Regions from separate parts of the Homo sapiens genome. Here region 2 is linked to region 1. The links come from fine-mapping of genetic effects on plasma protein levels. A gene starts in region 1. The other region holds a variant in brackets. All regions are shown on one strand. Distances are from middle to middle. Region 1 holds the start of SERPIND1 (serpin family D member 1). Region 2 has its middle 100 kb from the start of SERPIND1.

The links. PIP is the chance, under the fine-mapping model, that this variant and not a neighbour inherited with it causes the effect. The UK Biobank Pharma Proteomics Project read protein levels with antibody pairs (Olink). The fine-mapping took linkage between variants from a reference panel, not from the people measured, so its PIPs are less certain.
Region 2: its variant is fine-mapped to the plasma level of the SERPIND1 protein (UK Biobank, PIP above 0.99).

The regions. Positions count from the first base shown.
Region 1 is chr22:20,770,194-20,778,193 of GRCh38, forward strand. It overlaps SERPIND1 (serpin family D member 1), which reads left to right and starts at 3,920. Exons shown (of 5, transcript NM_000185.4): 1 at 3,920-3,952. The region is part of intron 19 of PI4KA (phosphatidylinositol 4-kinase alpha); the gene reads right to left. RefSeq lists an enhancer at 7,608-7,902.
Region 2 is chr22:20,669,846-20,679,271 of GRCh38, forward strand. It overlaps the pseudogene ABHD17AP4. Among named protein-coding and RNA genes, the nearest start is that of SERPIND1, 100 kb to the right of the region's middle. The variant G/T (reference allele first, on the strand shown) is at 5,585.

The sequences.
Region 1 (8,000 bases):
CCCAGTTTTTTTTTTTTTGGTAGAGATGGGTTTTGCTAGCCGGGAGCAGTGGCTCATGCCTGTAATCCTAGCACTTTGGGAGGCTGAGGCGGGCAGATCATCTGAGGTCAGGAGTTCAAGACCAGCCTGGGCAACATGGTAAAACCCTGTCTCTACTAAAAACACAAAAATTAGCCAGGCATGATGGCAGGCGCCTGTAATCCCAGCTACTTGGGAGGCTGAGGCAGGAGAATCGCTTGAACCCAGGAGGCAGAGGTTGCAGCAAGCTAAGATTGAGCCACTGCACTCCAGCCTGGGCAACAGAGCAAAAACTCCGTCTCAAAAAAAAAAAAAAAAAAAGAGAGAGAGAGAGATCGGTTTTGCTATGTTGCCCAAGCTGGACACGGACACACACACACACACACACACACACACACACACACACACACACACACACACAAGCTGGACACAGAGACACACACAGTGACAGGGCAAAGGTTCCAAAATTTTAAACCTGGTAAATCTGGGTACGGGTATACAGGAGTTGTTCTACTACACTATTCTTTCAACTTTTTTGAAAGTTTGAAGTTATTTCAAAAGAAAAAGTTTTCCAAACTTTAGTGATCCTCCTGCCTCAGCCTCCCAAAGTGCTGGGATGATAGGCATGAGCCACCGTGCCTGACCCCTCTGTATATTTTTAGAATTTCATGTTAAAAGATGGAAAAGTCTGGATGAGGTAGTTCACGCCTGTCTTCCCAGCTCTTTGGGAGGCCAAGGTGGGAAGACTGCTTGAAGCCAGACGTTCAAGACCAACTTGGCCAACATAGTGAGACCCCGCTTTTTTCTAACTAAAAAAATTTTTTTCCAAGTTGGAAAAAATATCTAGCCATAAGACAAACCTTGAAACTGCAAAAGAACAATGGAGTATGTGTGACAGGAGGTACTGCTCTACAGTGGGGTTAAAGCCATACACAAGCTGTGGTGGCTCACGCCTGTAATCCCAGCACTTTGGGAGGCCGATGCGGGCGGATCATGAGGTTAGGAGTTCAAGACCAGCCTGGCCAGCATGGTGAAACCCGTCTCTACTAAAAATACAAAACATTAGCCAGACGTGGTGGTGGGCACCTGTAGTCCCAGCTACTAGGGAGGCTGAGGCAGGAGAATGGCGTGAACCCAGGAGGCGGAGCTTGCAGTGAGCTGAGATTGCGCCACTGCACTCCAGCCTGGGCGACAGAGCGAGACTCTGTCTCAAAAAAAAAAAAGCCATACACAAGCTGTTACCACTAAATGGGAAAATGACTGAAAAATGTCAATGTCAAGAGGGACTGAAATCAAATTTTTCCAATAGTGGGTTACATGATCAGAAATCCAAATAGACAGGAAATATGTTGGCTTTATTTATTTATTTATTTATTTATTTATTTATTTAGACAGAGTCTCACTCTGTCACCCAGGCTGGAGTACAGTGGCATGAACTCGGCTCACTGCAACCTTCACCTCCCAGGTTCAAGCGATTGTCCTGCCTCAGCCTCCCGAGTAGCTGGGACTACAGATGTGTGCCACCACACCCAGCTAATTTTTGTATTTTTAGTAGGGACGGGGTTTTACCATGTTGGTCAGGCTGGTCTTGAACTCCTGACCTCAAGTGATCCACCCGCCTTGGCCTCTCAAAGTGCTGGGATTACAGGTGTGAGCCACCACACCTGGCCGGTACTGGCTTTAAAAATAACAAAAGTAATACATACACATAGAAAAAGGTCAAACAAAGAAGTACATAGAATGAAAAATGAATGCTGTGTCCCCTCCCAGACCATTTCTGTGAATAAATATGTAATACCATGAAATGATGAGGACTAACATTTTCTGAATGCCAGGCACCACTCTATGTGCTTTCCACACATTCATTAACCTCATTTAATTTTCTCATTTAATTAATGAGATAAATTAATGTATCTCATTTAATTTTCACAACAACCTCATGCAGTAGGTGTAACTGTCACCCTCATTTCAGAGAGCAGAATACTGAGAGCTGGAGGCCAAGGGGCAATTTCAGCCAGGGTGGCTGGTGACGCCTCGGTGAAACCAAGAGCGAACAGTGAGAGCAGCGGCCACCTGCTGGTCTGCAGGGATGGTGTCCTGGGCAGAAAGAATAGCAAGTGCCAGGGCTGTGCTGGGGCCGGGCTTTGCATGTGTGAGAACAAGACAGAGAATGAGGGAGGTGGGCCCACGAGGAGTGTGGGCACAGACAGCAGCCTCTGCCTGTGGTGCCACGCTGAAGACTCAGTATTGTATGTGACAGATGAAGGCTCTAAGAAGACAGCTCTGACAAAAGCTAGAGTGCAAAATCAGACTCAGACACAACCACCGGTCTGTGTCCTGAACACAATGGACCTTTACACTCTGGAATTTCTCAAACGGAGCAATGCACAGACACCCCCATGGGCCCCTTGCACACCCGCAGATTCTCCTAGGAGTCACATTCTCTCTTCAGATAGACTCTGGGTGCCGACACTCCCAAACATGCTCTTGAGGAGCAGTCTCTGTGATAAGCTGATCTTCCAGACAATCCAGAATATTCTTAAAACTTTTTAGATCATAAAATTTAAAACACAAATTAAAAAACAAATTATCATAAGGCCGGGCACAGTGACTCATGCCTGTAATCCCAGCACTTTGCAAGGCTGAAGCAGGAGGATCACTTGAGCCCAAGAGTTCAAGACCAGCCTAGGCAACATAGTGAGACCCTGTCTCTACAAAAAAGTCAAAAGTTAGCTAGACATGGTGGTGTGCACCTGTATTCCCAGCTACTTGCAGGGCTGAGGTGAGGAGGATTGCTTCAGCTCGGGAGGTTGAGGCTGCAGTGAGCCAAGATCACGCCACTGCACTCCAGCCTGGGTAACAGAGTGAGACCCTGTCTCAAAAAACACATAGGGCCAGGCGTGGTGGCTCACGCATGTAATCCCAGCACTTTGGGAGGCCGAGACGGGAGGATCACTTCACTCCAGGAGTTCAACACCAGCCTGGCCAACATAGTGAAACCCCGTCTCTACTAAAAATACAAAAAATTAGTTGGACATGGTGGTGTGCGCCTGTAATCTCAGCCACTCAGGAGGCTGAGGCAGGAGAACGCTTGAACTTGGGAGACAGAGGTTGCAGTGAGCTGAGATCGCACCACTGCACTCCAGCATGGGCAGCAGCGCGAAACTCTGTCTCAAAACAAACAAACAAACAAACAAACACCCATAAACACAAAATGTATCACAGCCTCAGAGATCCCCACGAATGCCTAAGTGGCCCTGAATTTGGGAGGCACTGCTCAGTAATAGTCCTATCTGTCCCACAACAGACAGGAGTGCTGGGCTGCACCTACTGGCAACAAACACAGCAACCCTTGACTGAAGAAAGGTCCATGCCACAATCCCCTTATTCTGTAAGCCACTAATTTTGTCCTCTCTCCTCCACCTTTCACTGAGGAACGAGCTCTTGGAAGGACAGGGACACCCGCCTAGTAGCTGAGCCAGCCACATCAGTCCTGGAGAGCAGGTGGAGGGCAGATGCTGTGATCATCCCAGAAGAGAGGACACAGTTGGAGGCAGATGCATGGTCTCTACTTTCAGCTACCCTCAATGCAGCCTGGTCCCCAGAGGCCTGAAGAGCGCCTTGTTTATGTGGTGACCTCAAGAGGGGCTGCTCCTGCACCAAGGCTATGTGTGCATGCTAACACAGTAACCGTCATATACTCAAAGTGTCAGCTCTAAGAACTGGAGATGAGGAGCTGCAAGCCACTCTACAGTTATCAAAGGCACAGCTGAGGGGGTTTGTGCTGACCAAGCTGGTTGCCTGGTGTTTGGATTGGGACTTATTTACTTTGGAAAATATGCAGCAACAGCCCAGCACCAAAGTTCACATCAAAATCCCACTGATGACCTTGGCTGCTTTCATCTCTGAAGCGCCACTTCTCAGAAACACAGAGGTAAGTTGGGTTTCTAATGTTTCTGCTGATTATAAATTATTTTTGGTGTTTACGGATAGGCAACTGGTTCATTTTTCTAGCAAACTAAGAATTCAGAAGCTTTCTACACTGTTTTAGAAGTGGGAAATGGTTTCATTTTTCAGTGTGCCTATTATAAAATTGTGTCAGTTCCATTGTTGGGAGAGTTGACAAACTTAGAATAGGAGCTGTGGAATAGATGAAAATATTGTACTTATATTAAATTAATCGAATTGGATAACTGTCCTGTGATTATGTATGAGAATATCCTTGCTCTTGGGTATTTTCCCTGAAGTATTAGTATTAAAGGTTAGAGGGGCCGGGTGCAGTGGCTCACGCCTGTAATCCCAACACTTTGGGAGGCCGAGGCGGGTGGATCACGAGGTCAGGAGTTCAAGACCAGCCTGACCAACATGGTGAAGCCAAGTCTCTACTAAAAATACAAAAATTAGCTGGGCGTGGTGGCACGCGCCTGTAATCCCAGCTACTCAGGAGGCTGAGGCAGGAGAATCGCTTAAACCCGGGAGGCAGAGGTTGCAGTGAGCGGAGATCGTGCCACTGCACTCCAGCCTGGACAACAGAGTTAGACTCCGTCAAAAAAAAAAAAAAAAAGAAGAAAAAAGAAAAAATGTTAGAGGAACAAGATATAGGAGACCTACTCTCAAATGGTCTAGAAGAAAAAATGTGTATGTGCATGCCTGTGAGAACACACACGTACGTACACACACACACAGATAATGACAGGGCAAAGGTTCCAAAATTTTAAACCTGGTAAATCTCGGTACGGGTATACAGGAGTTGTTCTACTACACTATTCTTTCAACATTTTTGGAAGTTTGAACTTACTTCAAAATAAAAAGTTTTCCAAACTTTAGGCAGTTACTTCTCTCCCATTCTGCCTGCTCTGTTGGGCCTGGAGACCATACACCAGGAGGGATGACGGTTTATCAAGTGTTATGCTCTGATGCGTGACTGAAAAGGCCAACCCAGCTCTGGCAATTAGCAAGAAAGCACAATATGAAGTTCCCAGGAAAAAAAAAAAGCAAAACAAACTTTTGAATGATTTATCTTTAAAATATATTGTTTCTCTTCAAACAGTAATCTGGATTTAATCACAACCTAGTGATAGTTTTTAAACGTCTTCTACAATGTTTGTTATACTAAATAGCAAAACATCAGGAAGATTTACCTTCAGATCTTTAATTTCAATCCATAAAAGATATCAGAGATATTTTCTCCTTCCTCTGGTAAGGGAATGACGAAAACTATTTTTGGCTTTTTATCAGATAATGTGGGAACAGGGTATAAGAAGTTTCCAAATATAACTTCTGAATACCGGGATAAAACATGCATGTCTTTACTCTGCCACTCTATCTGGCCTCAGATACGTTTTCCTGAATGCTTATTTATTCAAGTTGGTTTTTGTTTTGTTCTTTAACCTTATTTTTATCTGAGAAGAAAACATTTTCCCCCTTTGTTCCTTCTTCTTTTGGCTTTCTTTTTTAAAATAGAGATGAGGTCTTGCTATGTTGCTCCAGCTGGTCTTGAACTCCTGGGCTCAAGCGATCCTCCTGCCTTGGCCTCCCAAGATGCTAAGATTACAGGTGTGAGCCCCTATGCCTGGTCTTCTTCTTCTTGATCTTAGCCAAAAGGCCAAGAAGTGATAAGAGGAGGACACTTGAAGTGTAGTTGGGCAAGGAGCCTTCTACCAGCTGCTTACTTTCTTTGTTCCTGACTTTTAAAAGTGTGTTGCTATTGATACACAGTCTCCTGATATGTAAAATGCTGGGAGGATGAAGCTAAGTTACTCAAAGTGCCATTCAGAAACTGGGCCCAGTTCTATTTGCAGCTACATACATTAGAAATCATTTCTAGAGGCTGAGCATGGTAACTCATACCTGTAATTCCAGCACTTTGGGAGGCCAAGGCAGGAGAATTGCCTGAGCTCAGGAGTTTGAGACCTGTCTGGGCAACATGGTAAAACCCCATCTTTACCAAAAACACAAAAAATTAACTGGGTTTGGTGGCACACACCTGTGGTCCCAGCTACTTCAAAAGGCTGAGGTGGGAGGGTCTCTTGAGCCTGAGAGGAACAGGTGGCAGTGAACCAATATTGTGCCACTGCACTCCAGCCTGGGTGACAGAGTGAGACCCCGCCGTCTCAAAATAAAAATAAAAAGAAATCGTTTCTAGAAACTGTTTTCCCGTGTGTAAACTAGTGGCACTGCAGCCTGAGGCAGGTGCTGAGATGGGGACCTGGAAAAGGCAACAGGCATTTTGAGTCAGAAACAATGTGACTTTCCTGCTCCAAAATGTGCAATTCAAAAGTCTTTCTTAGTTGTGACTAAAACAAACTTTGAACTTACTATTTCAACAGTATTATAAGGGGAAGACCCAAGGAATGGGACTGGCACTGGGAAAACAGCTAGGAAGCTGCTCTGCACGGCCAGGGAGTCTGGAAGCATCCTGGTACTCCAGAGCGAACAAGGCTGAGCGCTTGATGTGGGGCTTAGAGGCTTAACCAACTTGGTTCGAATCTAGCCACTGCCACTTATTAGTGACAGTGACGAAAGGCTCAGTCTCCTGATATATAAAATGTTGGGAGGATGAAACTAAGTTACACGAAGTGCCTTATACAGCGTGTCAGGCATCCAACAGAGGCCATTATCAACATTAACCACACTGACAGCATTTCAAGCAGAGTATCCGAACAGTTACCCCATCTTCAGGCCTACTGAGTTCAAATATTTGCTTAACAAGAGCAGCCAGTAACTCTTACCTGGCCTCAACTGGCAGCAGATATTCTGGGCCTCAAATATCTATCTAATAGGAAATGGTCACAGACACAAAATAAGCTTAACAAAAGGCAGTTTTTTTTTGTTTTTTTTTTGTTTTCTGTTTTTTGAGATAAGGACTCACTCTATCCCCCAGGTTGGAGTGCAGTAGTGGCGTGATCACGGCTCACTGCAGACTCAAGTGATCCTCCTACTTCAGCCTCTCAAGTAGATGGGACCACAGGCGTGTGCCATCACACCAGGCTAATTATTTTTCTTTTCTTTTTTTTTTTTTTGAGACGGAGTTTCGCTCTTTTTGCCCAGGCTGGAGTGCAATGGTGCGATCTTGGCTCACCACAACCTCTGCCTCCTGAATTCAAACGAATCTCCTGCCTCAGCCTCCTAAGTATCTGGGATTACAGGCATGCGCCACCACGCCGGCTAATTTTTTTGTATTTTTTGTAGAGACAGGGTTTCTCCATGTTGGCCAGGCTGGTCTCGAACTCCCGACCTCAGATGATCCGCCCACCTCGGCCTCCCAAAGTGCTGGGATTACTGACCTGAGCCACCGCACCCAGCCTATTTATTTAATTTTTCACAGAGATGAGGTCTTGCTATGTTGCCCACACTGGTCTTGAGCTCCTGGGCTCAAGTGATCTTCCTGCCTTGGTCTCCCAGTGTTGGGATTATAGGCGTAAGCCACAGCGCCTGGCCGGCAGTTCTTTCTGGGGTGATTAGAAGTTGGGACCATGTATTACCTGTCTGAGTCAGCATTATAAACACCTATGGTCACTGTCCTGGCAAAACATGGAATCATCAAAGCTCATCTAACCAGAGTGCAGTTAATAACCAGGAAGTAAGCAAGAGAAAGACAAAGGATTTGGCAGTCAAAACAGATTTGACAGGCCAAGTCAGATCCTCCTCTGAACGAGTCAGAGGAACAAATAAAGACAGGATTGCCATAATGCCTCTGTGCTAAAAGCTTATCTTGTTTACTTAAATAAAGGGAGTGCCCCTCAGGTCTTGAGTAAGAGCTTGCTGACATCACCCTCACACAGACTTTATCTCTTGTTTCTAACCCTGTGTTAGAAGCAGTAACACAGAAGATTTAGTTGCTCCTGACAGCAGTGGGAGCTATTGTCTAAGAGATACAAAGGAGAAAAAAGTATACCTGCAGCAAGTGATATCACCTCTGGGGCTGCCACCACATCACCTCACTACGCCCTGAGGGGGTCTCAGCACTAGACAAGTTCCAA
Region 2 (9,426 bases), 100 kb before region 1:
CAGCACTGGCCCGGGCGGTGCTCAAACACCGGTGAAGGGCCCAGGCAAGCGCAGGGCTGGGGACCTGGATGACTAGGAGGGCTGGATCTGGAATCGAGGCTGGCCCAGACCTCGGGTGTGTGCTGGGGGTCTGCACCTTACCCTGCAGGCCCTGCCCCAGGATGGCCAAGCTCCGCAGCCACAGGGCCTCATGGGCCAGGCCTCGGGACCTGGATGCAGCAGCCTCGCCTCACTTGGCCCCAAGTGCTGCCTCCGCAGATGGGCTCCCAGCCACACGTGCACAGACCCCCAGACCACCACCCACTCCCGACTGCCGGGTGGCATCCACGCCCCTGTGATAAGCTCAGCCCCTTCCCGTCCTCAGGCCAGGGGTTCCCAGGGAGCCTGGCTCCACAGGCCAGGGTGTGGGAGGACCGCCTGGCCACACCTCAGCCATGTGGAGGCGGCACCTGCACACCCAAGCTCGCCTGTCCGGCTCTCTGGCCCTGTGCATCCACTGTGGCTCCCCTCCTGCAGGGCCGCCCAACTTCCTCCCAGGGAAGCCCGCCCCCCGGCCCCCGGCTTGGTCCCCTCTTGGGTGTGCCCAGGCTGAGCTGCCCCCAGGGTCGCCCTCACCTGGTGCGCAGGGCCTGCCAGGCGGCGTCGATGTCGGCATAGAGGTTCCACTCGGAAGGCCTGCCCGCGCTGGCACCGTAGCCGGAGTAGTCGTAGATGATGTTGCAGTGGAGGCGGGAGTTCAGCCCAGTATAGAAGCTGCTCATCTGGCCCAGGTCCACCGCGTTGCCGTGCGAGAAGAAGACCGTGTACCTGGCACCAGGCACGCAGCGAACATACATGCAGGAGACGCGGTTGCCGTGGGCGCTCTTAGTGGGGAAGACCTCGATGGTGTCCAGCTCGCGCTGGCTGTACTGGAAGTCGGCGAGCTCCGTCAGGTGCAGCTTCCAGCGCCCGAGGAGGCCCGCAGGGTCCCCAAGGGGGCGGCCCCGGCCCCACCAGGCCCCGGCCCCACCAGGCCCGGGCTCAGGCACCAGGGAGTAGGTGGCCTCCGGCGGCAGGAAGGCGAGCTTGGCAGCGATGCGGCCGGGGCAGGGCGGGTAGCAGAAAAGGCAGCAGAGCTCACTCAGCGACAGCCCGTTCATGGCAGGCGCCTCCCGGGCCGGGCCTCCACCGGGGCCCCCGCCAACAACGCCGCCCGGCCTGGCCGGGCAGGGGAGGGGTGGGGGTGCTCCGAGTCGCGGGCAGGGGTGAGAGCCCCAGACGGCAGCCCCATTAGGAGGCCAGGGCCCAGCCCCATCGCGGTCCAAGCCGCCCCAGGGAGCCTCGCAACCACAGGTCTCCATGTCGTGCCGTGGGAAGGCCACCCCGGCCCGCGCCCCCGGGCCCCAGGGCCGCGCTCCATGGCTCCCGACCGCCCGCCCGTGCATCCGTCGGTCCCTCCGCGCCCCGGCCCGGCCTCCTGCACCGCCACCGCCGCAGCTCCCCCACGAACGGAAGCAAAATTTTTCTTAACGGGATGATAATTCACTAGTTTACCTCTAATGAGTCTCAGTATTTAATCTATCATGAAATTACGCGGCACCAAAATAAAATATAATTAGTTAAAACACAAAAATTATTTTATTGATTAATTTAGACATCAGATGTTTACATTATGAAATCAAGGTATTTTTTGGTTTTTGTTTTGTTTTTAGAATATTAGCAAATATTACCAAACATGAACCATAGTAAAAGTTCTTCAGTAACACTTTACCATTCCGTTTTCAAATAACCTGAATTTATGTGCCAGATTGAAAAGCTTTTACATGAGTGACCTATATTTCTGTATGTATCCAAATATTTGTATATCATGTAGACAAGCCAAGAAAATACACAGATATGTAAGCCATTGCATAGAATGGTAAAGAATACATTCTTAATAAGATGCATTCGCTTAATGCTCCAAACAGGTCTCTAGTATCTCAAATGCAGCATTCACCCACTATTTCCAAACATATCAGGGCCAGGTGCCATGGCTCATGCCCATAATCTTGGCACTTTGGGAAGTTGAGGTGGGTGGATCACTTGAGGCCAAGTTCCAGACCAGCCTGGCCAACACGGCAAAACCCTGTCTTTACTAAAACTACAAAAAAAATAAAAATAGCTAGCCATGGTGGCACACTACTATAATCCCAGCTACTCAGGAGACTGAGATACAAGAATCATGTGAACACGAGAGGCAGGGGATGCAGTGAGCTGAGCCGAGATCACGCCACTGCACTCCAGCCTGGGCAACGGAGCGAGTGAGACTCTGTTTCAAAAAAACAAAACCAAAAGCATTGTATCATGATATGTGACTAAGCTGAATTTAAAACACTGTAACATAAACTAGATGAAAAGTATTATACAAAATTTTTCTTTGTATTTCTATTTGTTTTGAATTTACCAACAATTCAAATCTTGCTGAGAATATTTGCACTATAAATATTTCTGTGATTATTGGTTATATTCAAATTCGCTCATTTTCAAAGCTACCTGTATAAAATTATTAAAATTGTACATAGCTTGGAATAAGAGTATGTTGAATATAATTGCCATGTGATACATTTATATTTAATAATTAAAGGCATATTACAACACTTACGCCTCATCTTAATGTTACTTAACCTTAGAAACAGAGTAAATGATAGGAATAATATGGGAGACAAACTGTGGAAAGCCACATTCTGTATATCTCTGTTGTTTTTATTAAACTTTTTTCCTACTGCACTTTAAATTTGTCATAGACCATTATTTTAGTAATTATTAATGTAATCTTACGTATGTATATTCTCTACCATCTTAGCAGGTTGAATAAAATACATGATTAAAGGCAAAAATGTGTGCAAGGAAAATATAGAATATTTAAGTTACAAAAAGCTACTCTTACTGAATCTCTTAAATTACAGCTTATAGCTAAAGAGTACAAACTATTGTAAAAGTTTTCTCCCATTTGTAAGTAATTACACATATAAAGTATCTCCCCATTCAGTAGATCTTATATTTCTTTGAGAAACATATATTAAATATAAAATATTCTGAATTCTAAATTGCATTTAAAATTGTTCATCATTGGTTATATTATGTAATTATAAGCAAGTACATTTAATGACTACATACTGTAAACTTTCTTTACCACGTGGCACAAATAGTTAATTTACCTTTTTTTTCTGTCTCTGTCTTCTATGTCCTAGGCTATTTCAGTTTTCTCACGAGTAGCCATTATTTTCAATGAACTACCAAAAAGTTATAAGGCAGCCACGATCAAACAAAAATGTTAGTAATATAGTATAGTATAAAGGTTTTTTATTTCTTAATTTATATTCCAAATTGTTAAATAATTTTATCATCCAGTCTTGATGTCTGAAAACATCTTAAAATAGAGAAGTTCACAGTATTAGATGCTGTATCTTTCTTCATCTAATGACAAAAGACTTTAGTTCTTTTCTCAATTTTAGGAGAAGTTTTGCTTTAAGACCAATAAAAACATAAGTTTACATAAGCTGAGAGCACGTTATGTATAGCTACTCTGTGGAAAACATTTTATTTTAAGAGCTATTAGGAACATCTTTTGAGAATATTCAAGCTATATATGATGCTGCAAATTTATTTTTATGGTTGCTATAACTGGCAAGGCAAGCAGATGATATGCTTGAAGCTATCTCGTGATGAGCACATCTGAGGGAATAAAGAAGGGCCTTCACAAGAAGAGGGAGGCAGCTGGTACATTCAGTAATGCATCATGAACACCAATGCAGTGGCTCCTGAGAAAGAGTCAATATAATACCTGGATTCCTTGTTTCTATCTCATATGTAATCCAGTTTCAGGGAAGTATAAAAGTGACAGGGATGGGGAGAGTATATGAACCATTAATATGAAATCTAAAGAAGTGCAGGCATCCAGCTGTCTGGTGTCTACTGAGGTCGTTCACCCAGATTAACAATACAGATACTTAGTTAAATTCTGAACTGCAGATAATGGGAAAGTAGGATTGTGGAAATCGGCTCCATCCAAATTATTACTCAGGTCTCCTCCTCTTCCAGATGCTGTCCCCACAGTATACTCAAGGTGTCTGATGACAGTGATGAGCAACTGAGGAATCATTTAATTACCAAGTTCTTCATCCTTACTTAAAAATGTAGAGTCACAAAATCATATATGAAAACACACTCTTTTTTTTTTTTTTTTTGAGATGGAGTCTCTGTTACCAGGCTGGAGATACTCTTTTTCAATAGAGTATGGCCTTCTGTCCACTCTCCTCTTATTCTTTCCAGAGTAGCAAGGTGTCCTTACGGCATACATTTAGCATAAAATTAGATGGGTTCCATTATAAAATAAAATGGAGACAGAATAAGTCAATACTGAATTCTTTGGTAAATCAAGCAAAGTCTTTAAAAATTTTTCTAGAAAATGGATTTATTTTTGTTTTTATTTAGTGTTTGTTTTATTTAGTTATTTTTAGTTTTTTTGTTTGCTTTTGCTTCATTGTTCTGCATTGCTAACTCGTTAAAATCACAAGCTATCTTATTGTATATTGAGTGTATTTGCAAGAGCTGTTTAGTGTTTTCTTCCCTAGTGAACCAACATAACGATTATTCTGCTATGAGTCTATGTTACGAAATATGTCTATGTCCTGCTATTCTCAGGCTTCATTTTTGCCTCTAAATCCTTCAGGTACTGTTGTTTTGGGCAGTGTAATGGATGTTTCTTCTTTTGTTCTTTCTGTGCCTTGAAAATTTCAGTAAGGAAATAAACTGGTTGTCAAAAACACCTGTTTGTTAAAATTGGAATCAGACTTTTTAAAGAAGAGATATACTTGGTTTCCTTGGCTAAATATTCAAAAGTTAATAGGATTTTTTTCATAGTATAACATAGTTTCAAAAGTTAAACGTAATTGTATTTAGTTTTATTGAATACCTACTTGTGTGGCATATTACATTTATTTTTGTTAATATTAAATTTAAACAATTTTAAGTATAAATTATTATATAGTGTGCAAATGTCTTTTTCATATAATGACTTCTTTTTCTCTGGGTATATACCCAGTGGTGGGATTGTGGATGAAATCTATTTATAGATCTTTAAGGAATCTCCATACTGTTTTCCATAGTGGTTGTACTAGTTTACATTCCCACCAGCAGTGTAAAAATGTTCCCTTTACACCATATTCATGCCAACATCTGTTGTTTTTTTATTTTCTTAATTGTGGCTATTCTTGCAGGAGTAAGGTGGCATCTCATTGTGGTTTTGATATGCATTTCCCTGATAATTAGTAATGTTGAGCATGTTTTCATTTGTTTCTTGGCCATTTGTGTATCTTCTTTTCAGAATTGCCTAGTCATACCCTTTGCCCACTTTTTGATGGGATTTGTTTATTCTTGCTGATTTGTTTGAGTTCCATGTAGATTCTGGATATTAGTCCTTTGTCAGATGAATAGTATGCAAAATATTTTCTCCTAATCTGTGGGTTGTCTGTTTACTCTGCTGATTATTTCTTTTTCTGTGAAGAGGCTTTCTAGCTTAATTTGGTCCTAGCTACTTATCTTTGTTTTTGTTCCATTTGCTTTT[G/T]AGTTCTTATTCATGAAGTCTTTGCCTAAGCCAATGTCTAGAAGAGCTTTTCTAATGTTATATTCTAGAAGTTTTATGGTTTCAGGGCTTAGATTTAAGTCTTTCATCCATCTTGAGTTGATTTTTGTAAAAAGTGAGAGATGAGGATCCAGCTTTTTTCTTCTACATGTGGTTTGCAAATTATCCTAGCACCATTTGTTGAATAGAATGTCCTTTCCCCACTTTGTATTTGCTCTGTCAAAGGTCAGTTGACTGTAAGTATTTGGTTTTATTTCTGGTTCTCTATTCTGTTCCATTTGTCTATGTGCCTATTTTTATACCAGTACCATGCTGTTTTGGTAACTCTAGCCTTGTAGTATAGTTTGAAGTTGGGTAATGTAATGCCTCTAGATTTTTTTTTTTTTTTTTTTTGCTTAGTTTTACTTTGGCTTTGAGGGCTTTTTTTTGGTTCCATATGAATTTTAGGGTTGTTTTTTCTAGTTCTGTGAAGAGTAATGATGGTATTTTGATGAGAATTGCATTAAATTTGTAGGTTGCTTTAGTCAGTATGGTCATTTTCACAATATTGATTCTACTCATCGATGAGCATGGGAGGTGTTTGCACTTGTTTGTGTTGTGTATAATCTCTTTCAGCAGTGTCCCTTAGTTTTCCTTTTAGAGATCTTTCATCTCCTTGGTTAGGTATACATTCCTAAGTATTTTATTTTTTGCAGTTGTTGTAAAAGAGGTTGAGTTCTTGATTTGATTCTCAGCTTGGTCATTGGAGGTGTATAACAGTGCTACCTCTGATTTGTGTACATTGATTTTGTATCCTGAAACTTGGCTGAATTCATGTATTAGATCTAAGAACTTTTTGGATGAGTCCTTAGGGTTTTCTAGGTATACAATCATATCATCAGTGAACAGCAGCAGTTTGACTTCCTCTTTACCTATTTGAATGCCCTTTGTTTCTCTTGTCTGATTGCTCTGGCTAAAATTTCCAGTACAATGTTGAATAGAAGAGGTGAAAGTGGATATCCTTTTCTTGTTCCAGTTCTTAGGCGAAATGCTGTAGATTTTTCTCTGTTTAGTATAATGTTGACTATGGATTTTTCATAGATGGCTTTTATTACCTTGAGGTATGTCCCTTCTATGCTTTTTCTGATGGTTTTAATCATAAATGGATGCTGGATTTTGTGAAATGGGTTTTTTTGCATCAATTGAAATCATATTTTTAAATTTTTAATTATTTATATGTGATTAATTACATTTATTGACTTGCATATGTTAAACCATCCCTTCATCCCTGATATGAAACCCACGTGATCATGGTGTATTATCTTTTTGATATAATGTTGGACTCAGCTAGTATTTTGTTGAAGATTTTTGCATCTATGTTCATCAGGGGCTGAACTATAGACCTACAGAGTCTGAACTATTGGTCTATAGTTTTCTTTTTTTGTTATGTTCTTTCCTGGTTTTGGTATTAGGGTGTTACTGGCCTCATAGAATGATTTAAGGAGGATTTCCTCTTTCTTTATCTTTTGAAATCATTTCAGTAAGATTGGTACCAATTCTTCGAATGCCTGATAGAATTCAGCTGTTAATCCATTTGGTCCTGGACATTTTTATTGTTGGCAATTTTTTTTACTATTGTTTCAGTCTCACTGCTTGTTACTTGTCTGTTCAGTTTCTTTCTCTTTTTTTTTTCCACGTAGGATCTCGCTCTGTCGCCCAGGCTGGAGTGCAGTGGCACAATCTGAGCTCACTGCAACCTCTGCCTCCCAGGCTCAAGTGATTCTCTTGCCTCAGCCTCCTGAGTAGATGGGATTACAGGTGTGCACCACCACACCCAGCTAATTTTTTTTATTTTCAGTAGAGACAGGGTTTTAACTCTGTTGGCCAGGCTGGTCTCAAACTCCTGGCCTCAAGTGATCTGCCCACCTCAGTCTCCTAAAGTGCTGGGATTACAGGTGTGAGCCACTATACCCAGTGCAGTTTCTATTTATTTGTGTTTTAATCTAGGAGGGTTGTATATTTCCAGGAATTTATCACTCTCTCTAAATTTTCTAGTCTGTGCACATAAGGGTGTTCATAGTAGCCTTGAATATATTTCATATTTCTGTGGTATTGGTTGTAATATTTCCCATTTCATTTCTAATTGAGCTTATTTGGATCTTCTCCCTTTTTTTCTTAGTTAATCTCACTAATGGTCTATTGATTTTGTTTATCTCTTAAAAGAATCAGTTTTTTGTTTCATATATCTTTTGTATTTTTGTTTCAATTTTATTTAATTCTGATCTTTATTATTTCTTTTTTCTTCTGGGTTTGGGTTTGGTTGGTTCTTGTTTCTCCAGTTCTGTGAGGTATGACTTTAGATTGTCTATTCATGCTCTTTGATGTAGGCATTTAATGCTATGAACCTTCCTCTTAATTTTGCTGTATCCCAGAGGTTTTAATAGGCTTTGTCACTATTATCCTTCAGTTCAAACAATTTTTTAAATGTTGCATAACAATGTTTATTTAGTTTTACATTTGTTTACAATTTCTTATAAACACTTTTCGTTATAATTTTATACAAACAACAGTAGGAGAAACAAGGAGCTAGAAAACATTAGAAAGTTGAGATTTGGAGGGAAGAATTTTAAAGACTGGAAGTACTAGAGGGAGAGAATCTAGAGAATGAAGGAGGCAATACTTGAAGAGATAACACAATGTTCCAAATTTGTTGGTAAAACATGAATTCGTAAATTCAGGAAACACAATATATACCAAACATATATTTAAATAAAATCCAGGCCTAGACTCAAGGTAGTAGTAAATGACAAGATACCAAACACAAGATTTTAAAAGCAACCATGGGGAGAAAAAGATCATCAATGAAGGCAAGACAGTCAAATCGTAGGCTTCGTAACAGCAACAGTGTACCCAAACAATTATTTTATTTATTTATTTATTTTTTGAGATGGAGTCTCGCTGTGTCGCCCAGGCTGGAGTGCAGTGGCGCAATCTTGGCTCACTGCAAGATCCGCCTCCCAGGTTCACGCCATTCTCCTGCCTCAGCCTCCCACCTAGCTGGGACTACAGGCACCCGCCACCACACCTGGCTAATTTTTTTTTGTATTTTTGGTAGAGACGGGGTTTCATCGTGTTAGCCAGGATGGTCTCGATCTCCTGACCTCGTGATCCGCCCGCCTCGGCCTCCCAAAGTGCTGGGATTATGGGCGTGAGCCACCGCGCCTGGCCATATTTATACTTTTTTAATACCACTAGGCTCAACCCGTATGATATTTTTTGCAGCAGCTTTCTTGAGATGTAATTCACATACCGCATAAATCGCCCATTTAAAATGTACAACCGAGCGGTTTTTAGCGTATTCATAGAGTCGCACATCACCACAATCAATTTTAGAACATTTTTATCACCCCCCAAAGAAATCCACATCCTTTAGCCGTCAACCTCCAATCCTTCCATTTCTCTGCACCTAGGCAATGTATAATCTACTTTCTGTCTGTATAGATTTGGGTACTCCGGATGTTTCACGTAAATGCAGTCATGCGACACGTGATCTTGTGGCTGGCTTCTTTCACTTAGCGCCATGTTTTCTAGTTTCACCCGTTTTCAGCATGTGTCCGTCCTTTTCCTTCTTTTCAAAACAGTTTTATTGAGATGCCATTCACATACCATGCAGTTCATTCATGTAAAGCATCTGTAATTCAATTGCCTTTAGAATATGCACAGTTACGTAGCCATCACCACAATACATTTTAGAACATTGGTATCACCTCAAATTCCTTTTTATTGCCAAATAATATTCCACTGTATGGATATACCACGTTGCATTTATCCACTGGTGGGCATTT